2 separate regions of the Homo sapiens genome follow, and region 2 is linked to region 1. The links come from fine-mapping of genetic effects on gene expression. Tissue or cell type: whole blood. Region 1 holds a variant in brackets; the other region holds the start of a gene. All regions are shown on one strand. Distances are from middle to middle.

Region 1 (8,105 bases):
GAGACTTTCATCTTGGAAAGTCCCAACAATCTATTAAAATAACTGCAAAAAATTGCAGATGTGTCACTAGCACTCAGTGAAGCGATCCGTCTTGTGATGATAATTACTCCTCAGAACAGCTCTGCCGAAGAGAAAAGGCAGAATGCAGAACAGACTCCTGTTTACAAAAGCGTTTGAGAACCTAGTAATACATTTCAGAGTATGGAAGTTTTTAATATCTATTTTTTTGTCATTTGGGGTTAAGTACTGAAAAAACAAGTGCCCACCATTCACTATAAGCTTCCAGATTCTGACTAAATTCTCCTTCAATGAATCGATTGCCTCTTATTAATTCTGAAGCTTCTGTAATATTTCCTTTTAAGATGGTCACTACCACTAGATGGTTTTCAGCTTAAAGAAACCCAGGTATTACCAATCCTCTGTGACTTGAAGCCAAAACCAGCTTCAAGGAGGATGATCCCCCAAAATATCTTCCAAGTCTCCATTCTAGATGTGGACCTAGAGAAAAGAAGAAACCTTGTAATTAAAAAATGTGCCTTCATGCACTTAAAATGTGTCCAACACATTGACTATAAATTATGCCTCATGAAGTTGATTTTTTTAAAGCATAAGGATGTCTTTCCCCACATCAACATAGGCTTTATCAAAATAAAGAGGGAAATGTTCCCACATTGTTTCAATTGTGCAAGGAAAATGGTCTTGCTGATCCAACTCGGGAAGAATTTTGTAAACACCCAGAGTGTACACCTCAGACTTCACTATTTAAAGTTGTCCAGATGTGGCTATAAAAGGAGAAAGCATACAGGACATGGCATAGAACTTCCATTTCACACACTGCATTCATTTGGTGGGTCATAAACATTTCTGAATGATTTTGTTTGTATATTTATGCAAGAGTGGAATAACCTGATAAACAGTTGTGGTATGCTAAAATATTCAAGTATCTCAGGAGCACATCTGCCTGGTCAAATAAGCCTAGTCTGAAAATACCTCATACATTCTCAAAAAAAAAAAAAAGCAGAACATCAGACCTCCCTCCCCAAAGCTTAGATCCATTTCCAAAGGGGTCCATGGAAATTGTCTACTCTCAATTCCATTTCTATTTTTTTTACTCTAAGAAAGTCCATTTGTTTAAAAATAAGAACATAATAATCCCATTGAATGAGAGGTTCCAAGTGGAACAGGGAATACCTCATCTTTATATTCTTGGCCAGCCAATCTCACAGCTGCCTTCAGCAGAATGTATGTGGTTAAAAAGCAAGGACTCTTGGAGATAGACTGCCTGGGCTTGAGTCTTCGATCCACTATCTAATAGTGGATCTTAGGCAAATTGCTTCACTTTTCTCTGCCTTGGTTTCCCCATTTGTAAAATAGGGGCAATAATAGCACCTACCTTATAGTGTTATCAGGATTGAGTTCATTATTATAAAACACTTTACCCATTCCTGGCACACAGAAGGCACTCTTTAGGTGTTTGTTAAATAAAATAAACCTTCTTGGAGCCCCAATATGTAATTCAAAAGAATTCAAAAGAATTCTTCCATGTCTTTGCCATTGTGAATAGTTAAAGCACATTCTTAAACAAACCAAAGAGTTTAAGCAAGAATCTCTAGCATGTCTAAATCACTTCCTAGTCTTGGGTTCTTTAAATAGAATATTGTGTGGAAGTGATCATCACAACACCCAGGAATAGCAGACACCCAACAGCTGCGTTTCTCTTTCCAGAAAGTGTTAAGTGAAAACCACCCCCCACTCCCTAAAAACACATCTTGACTGTTCATGCTCAACTTACTCCTTAAGAGGGATTCAAAAATTTGAGATAACCATATTTATTTTATTTACTTTATTATTTACACCAACAGAAAATACTGGGAGAAGTCTTGACTTTAAAGGAAGCCCATAGGCCTTGATTCTGGTTTGAGCTTGGCTATTTGCTCTGCAGACTTGAGCAAGCTGTTTCAACTTTCAGGTTTTATGTGATGAGTCTAGAGGTCTTAGCTCTGATTTGAGACAACTACTGTATTGACCACTGTATTACAAACATGCCCTAGGGAATTGGTCCAGTGTTTTTCCAGGAAATAGATGTGCTATAATTAGATTTCTCTGTTCCTCAGTTTCTACATAACTTCCCACTAGTGCCTCCTCCCGGAGGTGTATAAGTAACTAAAGGAAAGGTACTTTAAGACTTTAGATATCCTATCCTTCAATAAACTTTTACCTAAGGGTAAAAAAAAAAATGCATGAATCTTAAAGAATAGATTGCCCTAGTGAATTAATAACTGTATGAGGGTAAAGAGCTTGAGAGTCTGAAGGTGTGAAAAATGATCCAAAATAAATTAATGGATCATCAACATGATCCTCATCATCATCATTGCAATAAAATATTACACTTCCAATTTTGAAACACTTGGGTTAATAAAGTTATTGGAAAAAACAAAACCTTTAAGTAAAGGTTTTACTGTATAAAACCTAAATATAGATATTATGTCTACATTTTCATTTTCCATTATGTCCCAATTATTACTATTCATGCGATTAGTCATAAAAAATGAGCATTTTTAGCTAATTGTAAATAAAGCACTAGAGCTGTTTATGAAACTCTAGTGGGAAAGTCAAAATGATAAACATTTATAAACGGTTGTAAACATTTTACAGCTGGGCAAGTCTGTGTTATATCAATGAAGAGTTAAGTATCTATGTATTAGAGATTTAATATCTACGTGATATGTACTATTTCATTAAGATGTTTATATCTTAAGCTGCTGAAGAGATTTTGCATCTGAACACATGGGACTCCTCATGGAGGCAAGAAATAAAGCCATTAAATGAAATGGAATTAGATAGGGATAGCATAGAATACTGATTCTTTCTGCAAATAACTTTAATAGTTTTGCAATAGAAAAGATTTCTCTCAAAAATATATTGCTCAAATAGTTAACCAACTAAAACCGTCTATTTTTTAGATTCATTTATTCAGTTTAAAAATTACTTTGCAACTACCATAGTAACAATTGACTCAGGAAGAATCATCAGAGATTGCTAAAACCACTGGGTAAAAGTTTGTTACACAACAGAATATGAATATATTTTCAAAGTATCTTCTGAAAAATTACTTAGAAATTACAAAGGGCAAAAAAGTACCATTACGATGGAGAAGCCTGATGGACATGACTTAACCAAGTGATCAATTACATCAATAATAACAGGATAAACCAACATCATCACCTCCTGATATTATGCATGAGAAAACTTAACATCACTTATATAGTATTTCTCCTTAAAATCCATGACCTAAATCTGATAACGAGAAAACAATCACATAAACCAAAACTTGAGGACAGTCTAAAAAATAACTGGCCTGTGCGTCTCAAAAATATTCATATCATGAAAGACAAAGCAAAGGAATTGATTCAGATTATAGGAGTCCAAAGAGACATAACATATAAAGGCAATTCATGATCCTGGTTTGGGGGGAAAAATGCTATAAAAGCCATTGAATGAGACAGTAGACAAAATGTTAATATGGACAGAATATTATATAATAATACTGTATCAAGGTCATGGTGAAACCCGGTTTCTACAAAAAAATACAAAAAATATTAGCTAGCCATGATGGTGCACGCCTGTAGTCCCAGCTACTCGGGAGGCTGAGGTGAGAGAATCGCTTGAGCCCAGGAGGTTGAGGCTGCAGTAATCGTGCCACTGCACTCCAGCCTGAGCAACAGAGTGAGACCCTGTCTCAAAAAAAGAAAATACGGTATCAATGTTAAATTTAATAACTTTGATTATTGTGTTGTAGTCATGTAAGAGAATGGCCTTCTTATTTAAAAATACACACTGATGCATTGTGGAGCAAAGGACCTTACTATCAGCAACTTACTCTCAAATGCTTGGCAAAATTATAATGATTCATAGAGAGAGGAATAAAGCATTGCAATACATTTGCAACTTTTTACTGAGTGTTTATTGTTTGCCAGACTAAACTTCAGGCCCTAGAAATAACAGACTAAAAGAAACCATTCTTTTTCTCAGAGAACTAGTGGAGAGAGAGATGGATAAATTGTAATATTGTGGGATAAGCAAAATAAAATAGAAAGCTATACAAAGTGCTGAGGAACACAGTGTGTGAGCACCTGTCTTCACCTGGGTGAAGAGTTTACAGAGCAGATGATTCCAGAGTGAAGACTTGAAGGATGAGTAGAAATTTGCAAGTGAGAATGTGAAGAAAGGGAGTTCCAGGAAGAAGAACAGCATGTACATGCAAGGACACTGGAGAGGTACTAGACACTCCAAACACAGCCTGCCCACAGATTCAGGAGCTCAGGTTTAGGAGTGCTGGGGATGTGGTTAGGCCTTCATTAGAGCTCATGCACCTGTGCTGTCCAAGCTCTTAAGGCTTG[A/T]TAAGTCTCATAGAGATCTTTTCTGAAATGACTGAACTTAAAAGGTGGGATAGAAGAGGGGACCCGAGCAGAATTCCTCAGTCTTCAAAAACAAACCTCCTTAACTTCATTTAATTAAAGTAGCAATGCTTTATATACCAGTCTCCTTCAAGGTTTTTGTTCTTCCTCTGTGGAATGCTCAACTATAAAATACGAAGATTCCATCTCTAATGTCCTATGCCAGTGACTCTTAAACTTCAGCATTGCATCAGAGTTACCCAGAGGACCTGTTAAAGCCCAGTTTGTTGGCCCCTACCTCCAGAGTTTCTGATTTTGTAAGTGTAGTGTGAACCCTTAGAATCTGCCTGCTGAGCTGGTCCGAGGAACCATATTTCAAAAACCATTCTTTAGGCCGGGCATAGTGGCTCATGACTATAATCCTAGCACTTTGGGAGACCAAGGCAGGAGGAGTGCCTGAGCCCAGGAGCTGGAAACCAGCCTGGGAAAAATAAAGAGACCCTGTCTCTACAAAAATAAAAATAAAAATTAGCCTGGTGTGGTGGTGTGTGCCTGTTGTCCCAGCTTCTCAGGAGGCAAAGGTGGGAGAATTGACTGAGTCCAGAAGTCGAGGCTGCAACAAGCCATGATCATGCCACTGCACTCCAGCCTGGGTGACAGAGAGGGAAGGGAAGGGGAAGGGGAAGGGGAAGGGAGAAAGAGAGAAAGAGAGAGAGAAAGAAAGGAAAGGAAAAGAAAAGAAAAGAAAAGAAAAGAAAAGGAAAAGAAAAGAAACTAGTCTCCCATGCATTTAGCATGCAGTGGTTCCTGCTCAAGCGAGTGTCTGCCCCACTTGCTTTCAATAGCCTCTTTAATTCCCTATGGAGAAAATCAAGTGTCTATTTTCAAGTAAGTGAGAAAAGAGAAGAGATTATTGATTTTAAAATGTTTTTTAAATTACTGAGGTAAGCAGAAGCTTCAAAATATTTGGATGAAATACTCAATGCAAATATGCAAAATTAATTTAACACATTTTTTCCATTTTCTTTCTATTTATTCTCTGAAATCCAGAGCTGTGCTCTCTCTTTTCTTTCTGTTCACTTTAACAGGGTTATTACAATAACTGGATTTTTGGCTTTCTAATGAGATAGTCTTACAGTGTTCCACATCTGGGCAGGAAGCTCCAGAAGGCAAACAATTGAGAAACGTGAATAGATTCTTCTGTACACTTCACGTTAAACTCTACATAACATGTTTGACAGTAAAAAAAATAAAAATAAAAAACTAAAGTTTAGCCTTAATTTATTGCATAAACATTAACATTTGTTTTCTGTGCTCATTCACAAATCTTACAATGGCTCAGATAAATCTATAACTTTGTTGTAAAATATTTAAGGGAGGCTATGTCAAACATTTCAATGACAATTAATGTGTCAGTAGTCTCAGAAAAAAATAACAAGATGCAGAATCTTGGAGCTTTCCTCCAGAGAAGGGTAAGGATTAAAATGCCAGAGTTCAGCGGAGCTCTGTGCAAAGCAATAAATGGCTGTTGATGGTTATGATACTCCCATCAGCTGTGGAAATTAGTAGATTGGTACATAATTAATTTGTGAGGTACTTAAAATTTTGGAACACTACACTAAGAAAATAAGAGAAAAGACCAAATAAATAAAATGAGAAATGAAAGTGGTGACATTACAAGAGATGCTTCAGAAATGAAAAAAATGAAAAAGAACTATTATGAATAATTATATGGCAACAAATTGGATAACCTAGAGGAAATGGATAAATGCCTAAAAAAATGCAACTTACGGAGGGAGGAGCCAAGATGGCCGAATAGGAACAGCCCCGGTCTACAGCTCCCAGCGTGAGCGACGCAGAAGATGGGTGATTTCTGCATTTCCATCTGAGGTACCGGGTTTATCTCACTAGGAGTGTCAGACAGTGGGCGCAGGTCAGTGGGTGTGCGCACCATGCGTGAGCCCAAGCAGGGCGAGGCATTGCCTCACTTGGGAAGCGCAAGGGGTCAGGGAGTTCCTTTTCTGAGTCAAAGAAAGGGGTGACGGACGGCACCTGGAAAATCGGGTCACTCCCACCCGAATACTGCGCTTTTCCGACGGGCTTAAAAAACGGCGCACCACGAGATTATATCCCGCACCTGGCTCGGAGGGTCCTACGCCCACGGAGTCTCGCTGATTGCTAGCACAGCAGTCTGAGATCAAACTGCAAGGCGGCAGCGAGGCTGGGGGAGGGGCGCCCGCCATTGCCCAGGCTTGCTTAGGTAAACAAAGCAGCCGGAAAGCTCGAACTGGGTGGAGCCCACCACAGCTCAAGGAGGCCTGCCTGCCTCTGTAGGCTCCACCTCTGGGGGCAGGGCACAGACAAACAAAAAGACAGCAGTAACCTCTGCAGACTTAAATGTCCCTGTCTGACAGCTTTGAAGAGAGCAGTGGTTCTCCTAGCACGCAGCTGGAGATCTGAGAACGGGCAGACTGCCTCCTCAAGTGGGTCCCTGACCCCTGACCCCCGAGCAGCCTAACTGGGAGGCACTCCCCAGCAGGGGCAGACTGACACCTCACACGGTCGGGTACTCCAACAGACCTGCAGCTGAGGGTCCTGTCTGTTAGAAGGAAAACTAACAAACAGAAAGGACATCCACACCAAAAACCCATCTGTACATCACCATCATCAAAGACCAAAAGTAGATAAAACCACAAAGATGGGGAAAAAACAGAACAGAATAACTGGAAACTCTAAAAAGCAGAGCGCCTCTCCTCCTCCAAAGGAATGCAGTTCCTCACCAGCAACGGAACAAAGCTGGATGGAGAATGACTTTGACGAGCTGAGAGAAGAAGGCTTCAGACGATCAAATTACTCTGAGCTACGGGAGAACATTCAAACCAAAGGCAAAGAAGTTGAAAACTTTGAAAAAAATTTAGAAGAATGTATAACTAGAATAACCAATACAGAGAAGTGCTTAAAGGAGCTGATGGAGCTGAAAACCAAGGCTCGAGAACTACGTGAAGAATGCAGAAGCCTCAGGAGCCGATGCGATCAACTGGAAGAAAGGGTATCAGCGATGGAAGATGAAATGAATGAAATGAAGTGAGAAGGGAAGTCTAGAGAAAAAAGAATAAAAAGAAATGAGCAAAGCCTCCAAGAAATATGGGACTATGTGAAAAGACCAAATCTACGTCTGATTGGTGTACCTGAAAGTGATGGGGAGAATGGAACCAAGTTGGAAAACACTTTGCAGGATATCATCCAGGAGAACTTCCCCAATCTAGCAAGGCAGGCCAACCTTCAGATTCAGGAAATACAGAGAACGCCACAAAGATACTCCTCGAGAAGAGCAACTCCAAGACACATAATTGTCAGATTCACCAAAGTTGAAATGAAGGAAAAAATGTTAAGGGCAGCCAGAGAGAAAGGTCGGGTTACCCTCAAAGGGAAGCCCATCAGACTAACAGCGGATCTCTCAGCAGAAACCCTACAAGCCAGAAGAGAGTGGGGGCCAATATTCAACATTCTTAAAGAAAAGAATTTTCAACCCAGAATTTCATATCCAGCCAAACTAAGCTTCATAAGTGAAGGAGAAATAAAATCCTTTACAGACAAGCAAATGCTGAGAGATTTTGTCACCACCAGGCCTGCCTTACAAGAGCTCCTGAAGGAAGCACTAAACATGGAAAGGAACAACCGGTACCAGCCACTGCAAAATCATGCCAA
Region 2 (8,086 bases), 70 kb after region 1:
GCAGAGTGAGACTCTGTCTCAAAAAAAATAAAATATTTCCCGGGGAGCCCATGGTAAAAATACAGTCTCTCTTAAAGTAAGTTTAATCTGGTGTTAATCTTTAAGGCTTCAACTGAAAAATATAAATGGTGTGTTATGATCAAAAATAGAGTGTGTATGTTTCTACTGAAACTTCAGAAACATAAACTTAGTATGACATCTGCACTTCAGATAAAGTTATTTTAAATCACGTTTGAGAATATATATTAATACAGTAATTCTGTTCATTTTAAATGCTAGGCAATATAGCGTTGGATTTGAGGTTGTAACAGTTTCTACTCTAGGAGATCCTGGTCCCCATGGCTTTCTGAGGAAATCTAGTGGTGACTATAGGTAATGTTGGCATTTTTATTGTATCTATTTTATACTTTACTTTTTGTGGCATCATCTTCTATAAACCTTATTCTCATTTTCTCTAAATATAGGTGTGGGTTTTGCTACCTGGAATTAGAAAATATACCTTCTGGGATCTTCAATATCATTCCTAGTACCTTTTTGCCTAAACAAGAAGGACCTTTTTTCTTGGACTTTAATAGTATTATCCCCATCAAGATCACACAACTTCAGTGATGGAGAAATCTCAAGTTACTGGCTTTTATACTTACCAAACATCAGTTCTTCAAATAAGGACGCAAATCTTCAGGACAGTAAGCAGAACAATCAGAATGGAATTAAATCTCTAAAAACGTGTTACAGTGGAATCTGGTGCTTGTCAGGGTGTTTGGTAAGAACTGTATATAGTCAGAATTACCTAAATCACCTAGAGGTACCGTTTACATGGTTTTGTGTATATAGAGTTGGCTTGCATTTTAGGGGCCATTTTGTATAAAAAGTGCATATGATTAAAATTAGACTCAGTCATCACTGTGAGATGCCTTTGCTAAGAGGATAAAGGAACTGAGACCAGATGAGAAAAAGAAAGGATATAGATTCCTTGAGTGGAATAGTGGGCTAGATTAATATACCGAAATATTTCCATTGTTTCCCTTTTTTGCAGAGCATGTGGAAGTTAAACCTGCTTGATTCTACTATACATCTTGGGCAACTAGTTACCAAATGAATTGTGCCACCATAACTGATTTTAATTTTGCATTATTTATGATTTTAAAATATTTGTTGCCCAGGTGTTATGAAAGAATAAAGCTTTTAAGTATAGACTACCTTAGCATGAAGATGCTCATGCCTAAGAATGAAAATTGTTGAGGTTATCTCCCATTCAATCATGTAGCAAGAACTTAAAGAAATTCACTACTGCAGTTTTTATTTTTAAAAAACAGTAATTGAGATATTGAAGACATTACAATTTAGTTTGTGTGGTCTTTTTTTAAATTGCTGTATCGTTCAGTCTCTTGTGGCAATAGCACTTTGAAGAAAATAGAGAATTTAATATATGGTGATTGGGATATGTAGCATTCAAAAAAAGTGAATTGCCAAGATACTGGTGTCATGTAAATTCCCACTTTACATAAAAACCCATCAGGACAGAATGATGCTCAATATTTTAAAATTCTAAAAATAGGGTGGGATTTTTCATTGTCTCTACTTTATAATTATCAAAACTTATTTTGTATTGCTACTACCTTAAATTGAAATAAAATGTTTATACTTACGGATATTGCATAGTTTAAGTTAGATTTATTGAAAGATTTCATCTGTCGTGTTTCATGTAAATGAGAACAGATTATTTGCATGAAAATATATACTTCAACAAAAATCTGTTCTTTAACAGAGTAGTGGTAGATTATTACACTAATGAGATTTCACTTTGGTAAATACTTCATGCTTTCAGTTTTAGCCTATTAATTTTAGGTGGACAAATTTAACAAGTTTTCTGTTACTTTTTAAAAAGAAAAAATCCAGAACATAAGAACTATATTATGAACACATGATTTGAACCTGTTGTGGTAAAGATCTTGTACAGGATGCAAACTAAAAACCTAATCCCTGCCATCAAATTTATTAGAAGAGACCTATATATGAACAACTTAAAGGCACTGATTTCTATAATAGAGCTCTAAAAACATGCCACCAGTGTATGAATAAGGGAAAGATTAATTTTGGCTGGACCAATATAAAAAATTGTATTTGAAGAATTGATACTTTAACTTGGACCTTGAAGGTAAAGCTTCAAAAGACAGGTTACTGACCATTGAGTGTTTACTATGTACCCAATGTGTATATTTTTCTTTTTAATCTTCCCAATAGCTGAATAAAGTATAGATACTATTATTTGTACTTCTTACAATTGAGGAAATAAGCCTAAGAGATTAAAAGATTTTGCCCAGGGTTCACAAGCCTTCTTCCCTGAGCCCTGATTGAGCTGCTGTGTGTGTCTAATGGCACCCACAGTCACGGCCGTCTAGTCGAGGGAGGGACAAGATCTAGACCCATTGTAGAGGGAGGAAAAACAATCCAGGCCTTTTGGAGGTTCTAAATAACAGACAGACCAGTTGAATTGTTAGAGAGGATGACTCAAGTTTCTAATTCAGCACATGGACAGATGCTCATAGCTTCAGTGAAAGGTAAGTTTTGACACATTAAATTGCCCAGAAAATCCAGATCTGGAATCAACGTGGTATAGTAAGTGAGATCACCCAAAAAGTCAAGAGTCACGTGAACTAAAGATGGTTAAGAACTGATTTGGGGGAAGTTTTTTAGAAAGTATTTCTAATTTAGAAAAAAATACATAGACTAACAGGAGATACAAGAAAACGAGGGTTGGGGGAGGATTAAGAAGCCCAGTGAACAGAATTCCCAGAAGAGTATAATTAAATGTCAGATGTGGTGGAGATAAAGAGGCCACAGTGACAGCAGTAGGGGCAGACTACGTAAAACTAGAAATTTGACTAGGTGATAGTGTGAGAAGGGAGCCCTGGTCAAAAGGTGGTCTGCATCCTTTTCTGGTGTAGGAGACAAGCAAGTGGTAGGCTGATGGGAAAGGGGGATTGAGGCAGGAAACAAGAGAAATTCTTAATGCCCATAAGGAATACTCTAGTGCTACTGACTGACTGCCTAGGCTTTGTCTTTTGTAAAGACAAGGGAAAGAAAGCCCCAGTGTTAGAAAACTCCTTCCCACTTTCATTCTCTGCGAGAAGTACCTAGAAATTTCTAGTTATTAGACTGTATAACTTGACTCTGCTGTAAAAACTTTATCCTAGCTTGGGCTATTTTCCAGATGGTGTTTCTTCTAGGAGGAAAAAGAATTGCCTCAATTGCAGGGAAGTTTTTGCTAATGGTAAGTCAAGCAAGTCTCAGTGTCTTTACTACAGGTAAAAGGGTGTAAGGAGATTTTATGAGAACTGAATGAACCCTGAAGGTCACTAGTCAAATTCAGGTATGCTGTTAAGTGTTCTTGCTTGAGACCCAAATTACAAGACTGGCCAATTTTTGTATTTTTGGTAAAGACTGGGTTTCACTATGTTGCCCAGGCTGGTCTCGAACTCCTGGGCTCAAGTGATCCACCAGCCTTGGCCTCCCAAAGTGCTGGGATTACAGGCATGAGCCCTTGGGCCCAGCCGGCTGTTTAATGTTCTTAAATAGCACAAGGGACTTCTATGAACTTTCCTAGATGAAATATTTATTAACTACTAGGTAAAACACTTGTTTGATACTGCAAAGGGTTATTTCTGAAACTTAAACCTCATGATTGGCCAACCAAGAACTTTTTCTCCACAGCATGCTTTAATAATGAAATGCGGATTAAGAGTCCAATATTATAAAACATTTCCACAAAAGAAAGAATCCATCTGATTCTCAACTCTGAATGCACATTTGAATTCCCTCGGGGAGCTTTTAAAAGTCTAATGCCCCAGTGTACCCCCCCCAGTTAATTAATTAAATAATTCTCTGGGGATGAGAACTGACTGACAGCAACACTTAAGCTTCGAGACTGCAGTGTGCAGCCGAGGCCCACTCCTCCAGCGTCACCACCTCGTCTTTATCTGCCACTGTGTCTCCTCATTGCCCACAGCTTTAGCAACAGCAAAAGTAGAATTCAAACCTTGGTAAACAAGGCTTAAATTATTACTGTTCATGACCTTAATTAATTGAAAATGATTACTGGTGACCACAGCACTCCATGCTCTTCCTTATGGAAAAAGGGTTGCCTAGAAGATTTAGGCAATACTGGGAGTTCTTATTTGAAGTCACAGAAAGGAGAAACTTTTCTCAAGCCGTTTTTATTACACTTAGTGTATTAAGACAAGTACAAAATAACCTTGTAATTAAGATACTGTATCAGTCAAAAAAGAAGTCACTATTGTATGAAGAGATTTACAAATGACTAAAATATACAGGCTGTGACAGAATTAACAGTTTGAAAGAGGGTTGCTTTTTTCTTTTAGAAATGCTAAATTTTCTTAACAAGACAAAAATACAGTGCTCTAAATATGCATTACCATGAAAACGTTAAAGAAAAGCAGTCTTAACACTTAACTACTATTAACAGCCTTTGCCAACACATGCCTGCCTACTCCCTTTCCTAACTTTAAAGAACTGTTTCCTCTAAGGAATACTAGTGCAGCATAACCCTTAAATAATTTCATTTATTTTTAAAGTTACAACCTACAGAGAAATTAACATCTTGTCAATCTAATAACAGTGGCAACCATTCTTCACATGCACTTCTCTTAGAATAAATCCCCTTGGCTGGCAGGATAAGGCTTATGCTGTAGAACCTTCTCCCCCACAGCCACAAATCCCCTTCTATAAGTCCCTCCTACCCTCATCCCCCCGCATCCCCACTGGCATTCACCTTTCCCACCCCAAAAAGTGCAGCTCATGGTAGCCTTCTAGAAAATGGTTTTAATGGGTATCCCAGCATACACGCTTTTTTAAAAGCCCCCTCTGAACACCAGAGGTGGTGAAAATGAATTGTGTTCTTGGATTTTTTTTTTTTTAAGCCTCCACTGGGTCAAAAATATGTGCTCTTAATACTTGAGTTTTTGCTTTGTGTGTGGGTTTTCTTTCTTTTTCATTTAGATATCGTGGGATAAAGTGGAGAGGACATCTCCATTTTCCCATACAAACTGAGGGTGAGAAGAGAAAGAGAAGCAAGCTGTTGCCCCCACTTTGGCCTGGCTTCCCAGCCATCTTCCCAGCTCTGGTTCTTTCATAGGAACTAGTTATTGCTTCCACAATGCCGTTATACGGAATGTTCCACAAAGGCTGTGAACCTAGTCACAGTCTACCCACAACAAGAACTCTGCTCTGAAAAACCAGCCCAAGAGCTCTTACCCAGAAGAACAATCTTTAGCCCTCAAGGTCACTGAAACTTCATTAGAGCAGTTTAGAGTAGACGTGTAAGATTTGGCATATATTAAATGATTATTGGCACAATGTTCTCCAGTTCCATGTATAAATGTTGATATGCACATCGGCCAGGGCCCAGGATGAATCAGCCAATCTGCACCATTTTTATGTCAGCAATAATTCCATCTCTTCCCTTTGAGCACTGTAGGGAGAGCTGCTTCATCCGGTTCTCCAAGGCCTGGCCCTCAGGGGAGGTGCTGCTTTGGCTCTTACTGCTGCCACCACTGCCACTGCTACTGCTGAGGCCCCGGTTGTTGTTGGCTTTGTCACTTGTTTTATTCTCTGCCCCTTCTGCCCTGTCTCCTATAGAAATACAAGGATTATCAAAAGTGAGTATTGACAATTCTGCCCTGTCTCCTATAGAAATACAAAGATTATCAAAAGTGAGTATTGACAATTCTAAGTCACTTGAGCTCAAACCAGTCAGCTAACTCAGCCCTGTAGAAGTCCCACTGTTACCTACCGTGCCTATCAGAGAGGTTCTCAGTACATAATCATTTACTGCTTTTATTCCTTGTGATGTTTTATATATTCCTTAGCTATAGAGATGAAATTTGCCATATTCACTTTATTGCTGAGAAACAAACCTCTCTACTATGTGCTTGCCAAGGAGACTGTTCTGATGTGAGACATAGGACCTAAGCTCTACTTTATAGAAGCTGAGTGGAGCCAGGAGCCCCCCCAGAACAGCACTTGGAAACAACCTCAGTGATCAATACTGACAGCACAACCACAGAGACCTGGTAATGCAGCATGGGGGCCCTGAGACCTGGCAGAGGTATGGAATGGCACAACAGTCAGGCTACAGAGGCAGTGTGGCATCTGGGACGGGGTGAGAAGGCTGCTACTCACCTCGTTCTACTTCACATTCAGGGGAGGAGGCCCCGCTGCATTCACTTCGAGGGCCCAACACTGGGAACATCATCCCAAACTCTGACAGGGACACAGGGCTGGGCAGATCCAGGCTGCCAGGCCTCACAACCGCAGGGAACTGGTCAGGCATCTCAGACGGGCTTGTTGGTCCTGAACTAAAGCTGGACACGGACTGGGTTTCCGAGTCATCTTCAGACACAAAGTTGCTACAGCTGTCATCTTCAAAGGCCTCCGAGGCCACTAAGTTGAGAGAGAACACCAGTCACATGGGTTCTGTCACCTCCTCAAACACCACAAGTGCTTGCTGCTGGCAGGCAGCTAGACACAGCATGGGGGACTAAAGAGTCTCTACCTCTGTGAGTGCCTAATGAAGGAATGTGACTTCCCAAGCCTGAATGACCAGCCTCTAAAGCAGCTGGAAGGGAAGCAGCTGGCAGCAGGATCCCATGGATATTAAGCGCCCTTCCAATAACCTTATAACCCTGCCAAGAAATCAGTGTCACCAGACACCACCTAAAAATGGAAGATTAATTCAGCCACAAATTAGGACCTTTACTCCACCTCAGTCCCCCAAATACATCCTCATGTGCACAGGAAGAGGTTCTAGTCCTCTGTAACATATCCCAAACAAAGCCAGCTGGACTCAGGCTTCTTTCTTAGGGCAATAGAAGCAAGAGCTGCTAGAAGAAACAGGCCAGCATGGAACATCTGTTGGGACCTTTGTTATCTCCAGGTAACTTCTGATCTCATAAAGAACACACTCAAAGGCTACCCACATCACCATTTGCTGCAAAAGAACAGAAATCCTTTACAATGCTCTGTAGCCACATTATTTGGTAGACCAAAGTAACAAGGCCCAGACACATGTTATTCCCATGGTTTCAAAGCCTCTTTGGCCTTTAGCGGTTTTCCCTCAGCCTGCCCACAATCCCACTCCTTATTAGAACTTTCCTACTCCATTTTTCCCCCCCTTTCTCTTTAAAAACAGCCTTGTAGCATTCCATAAAGGTTTCTTATAAATGATAAATACTGTAATGTTGGGGACAGAAAATGGGCTCAGACCTGAATTGAATCCCTAACTCCACTACTTGCTGTGTGACCTTGGTCAAGTTACTTTACCTCTGTAAGCTTCATGATCCTCTCCATGCAGGGTTTGAGATGATGTATATATTAAAGTACCTCATACATAGTAGTTGTTCAAATGATAGTTTCCTTTTCCTTTACCTTGAACCTAGTACTTAAATATTTGTTGAAGGAATTAACTCCTGAGGAAGGAGCTTGGGAAAGAGCCGACAGGGATTATTGCACAGGTAAGGAAAAGAAAGGAAGTATGCAAAGACAGCGTTGGGTGGGTTTTCTTGATGAGCATGACAGAAACCAAGTCAAACTTCTATCAGTTTTCCAGGGGGAGGCCCTGGGAAAAGAGGTCTCTATGGTCAGATGTCAGTAAGAGCCACCATTTGCTGAGTGCTTCTTGGGTGTCAGGGGTTGATTCATGTAAGCTGAACCACCACCCTACACAACGGATAGTATACAGTAGATAGCGTCATACTCCCCATTTTACAGGTGAAGAAACTGAAATACAAAGTTAGGCCCTTGCCCACATCATGCCTTAGTAATGATGTAAAGGTAGCTTTGAATCAAATCTGATTACAGCTCTTCTTTCCTGCAGGACTTCTCAGCCTTGAATGTTCAAATGTATACTTTGACTCTCAAAGAGGAGTGAAGGTGTAACATTTTCCCAATTTATTTGACCACAGAATCCTGACTTTGAGGAACACTTAGTACCTTCTTAATGAACACAGTGTTCCATAAAACATGGGAACCCACCAGAAATAGCCCTCAGGCCTGCCCAACTCTGAGA

The links. PIP is the estimated chance that this variant, and not a neighbour inherited with it, causes the effect.
Region 2: SH3BP5-AS1 starts here. The variant in region 1 is fine-mapped to the expression of SH3BP5-AS1 in whole blood (TOPMed, PIP above 0.99).

What each region holds. Positions count from the first base shown.
Region 1 is chr3:15,180,477-15,188,581 of GRCh38, forward strand. It overlaps the pseudogene COL6A4P1. Among named protein-coding and RNA genes, the nearest start is that of CAPN7, 22 kb to the right of the region's middle. The variant A/T (reference allele first, on the strand shown) is at 4,401.
Region 2 is chr3:15,250,652-15,258,737 of GRCh38, forward strand. It overlaps SH3BP5-AS1 (SH3BP5 antisense RNA 1), which reads left to right and starts at 3,533. Exons shown (of 3, transcript NR_046084.1): 1 at 3,533-6,955; 2 at 7,983-8,086. CAPN7 (calpain 7) reads left to right here. Exons shown (of 21, transcript NM_014296.3): 20 at 280-372; 21 at 465-2,265. The coding sequence ends at 609. SH3BP5 (SH3 domain binding protein 5) reads right to left here. Exons shown (of 9, transcript NM_004844.5): 8 at 6,202-6,462; 9 at 3,702-5,652. The coding sequence ends at 5,435.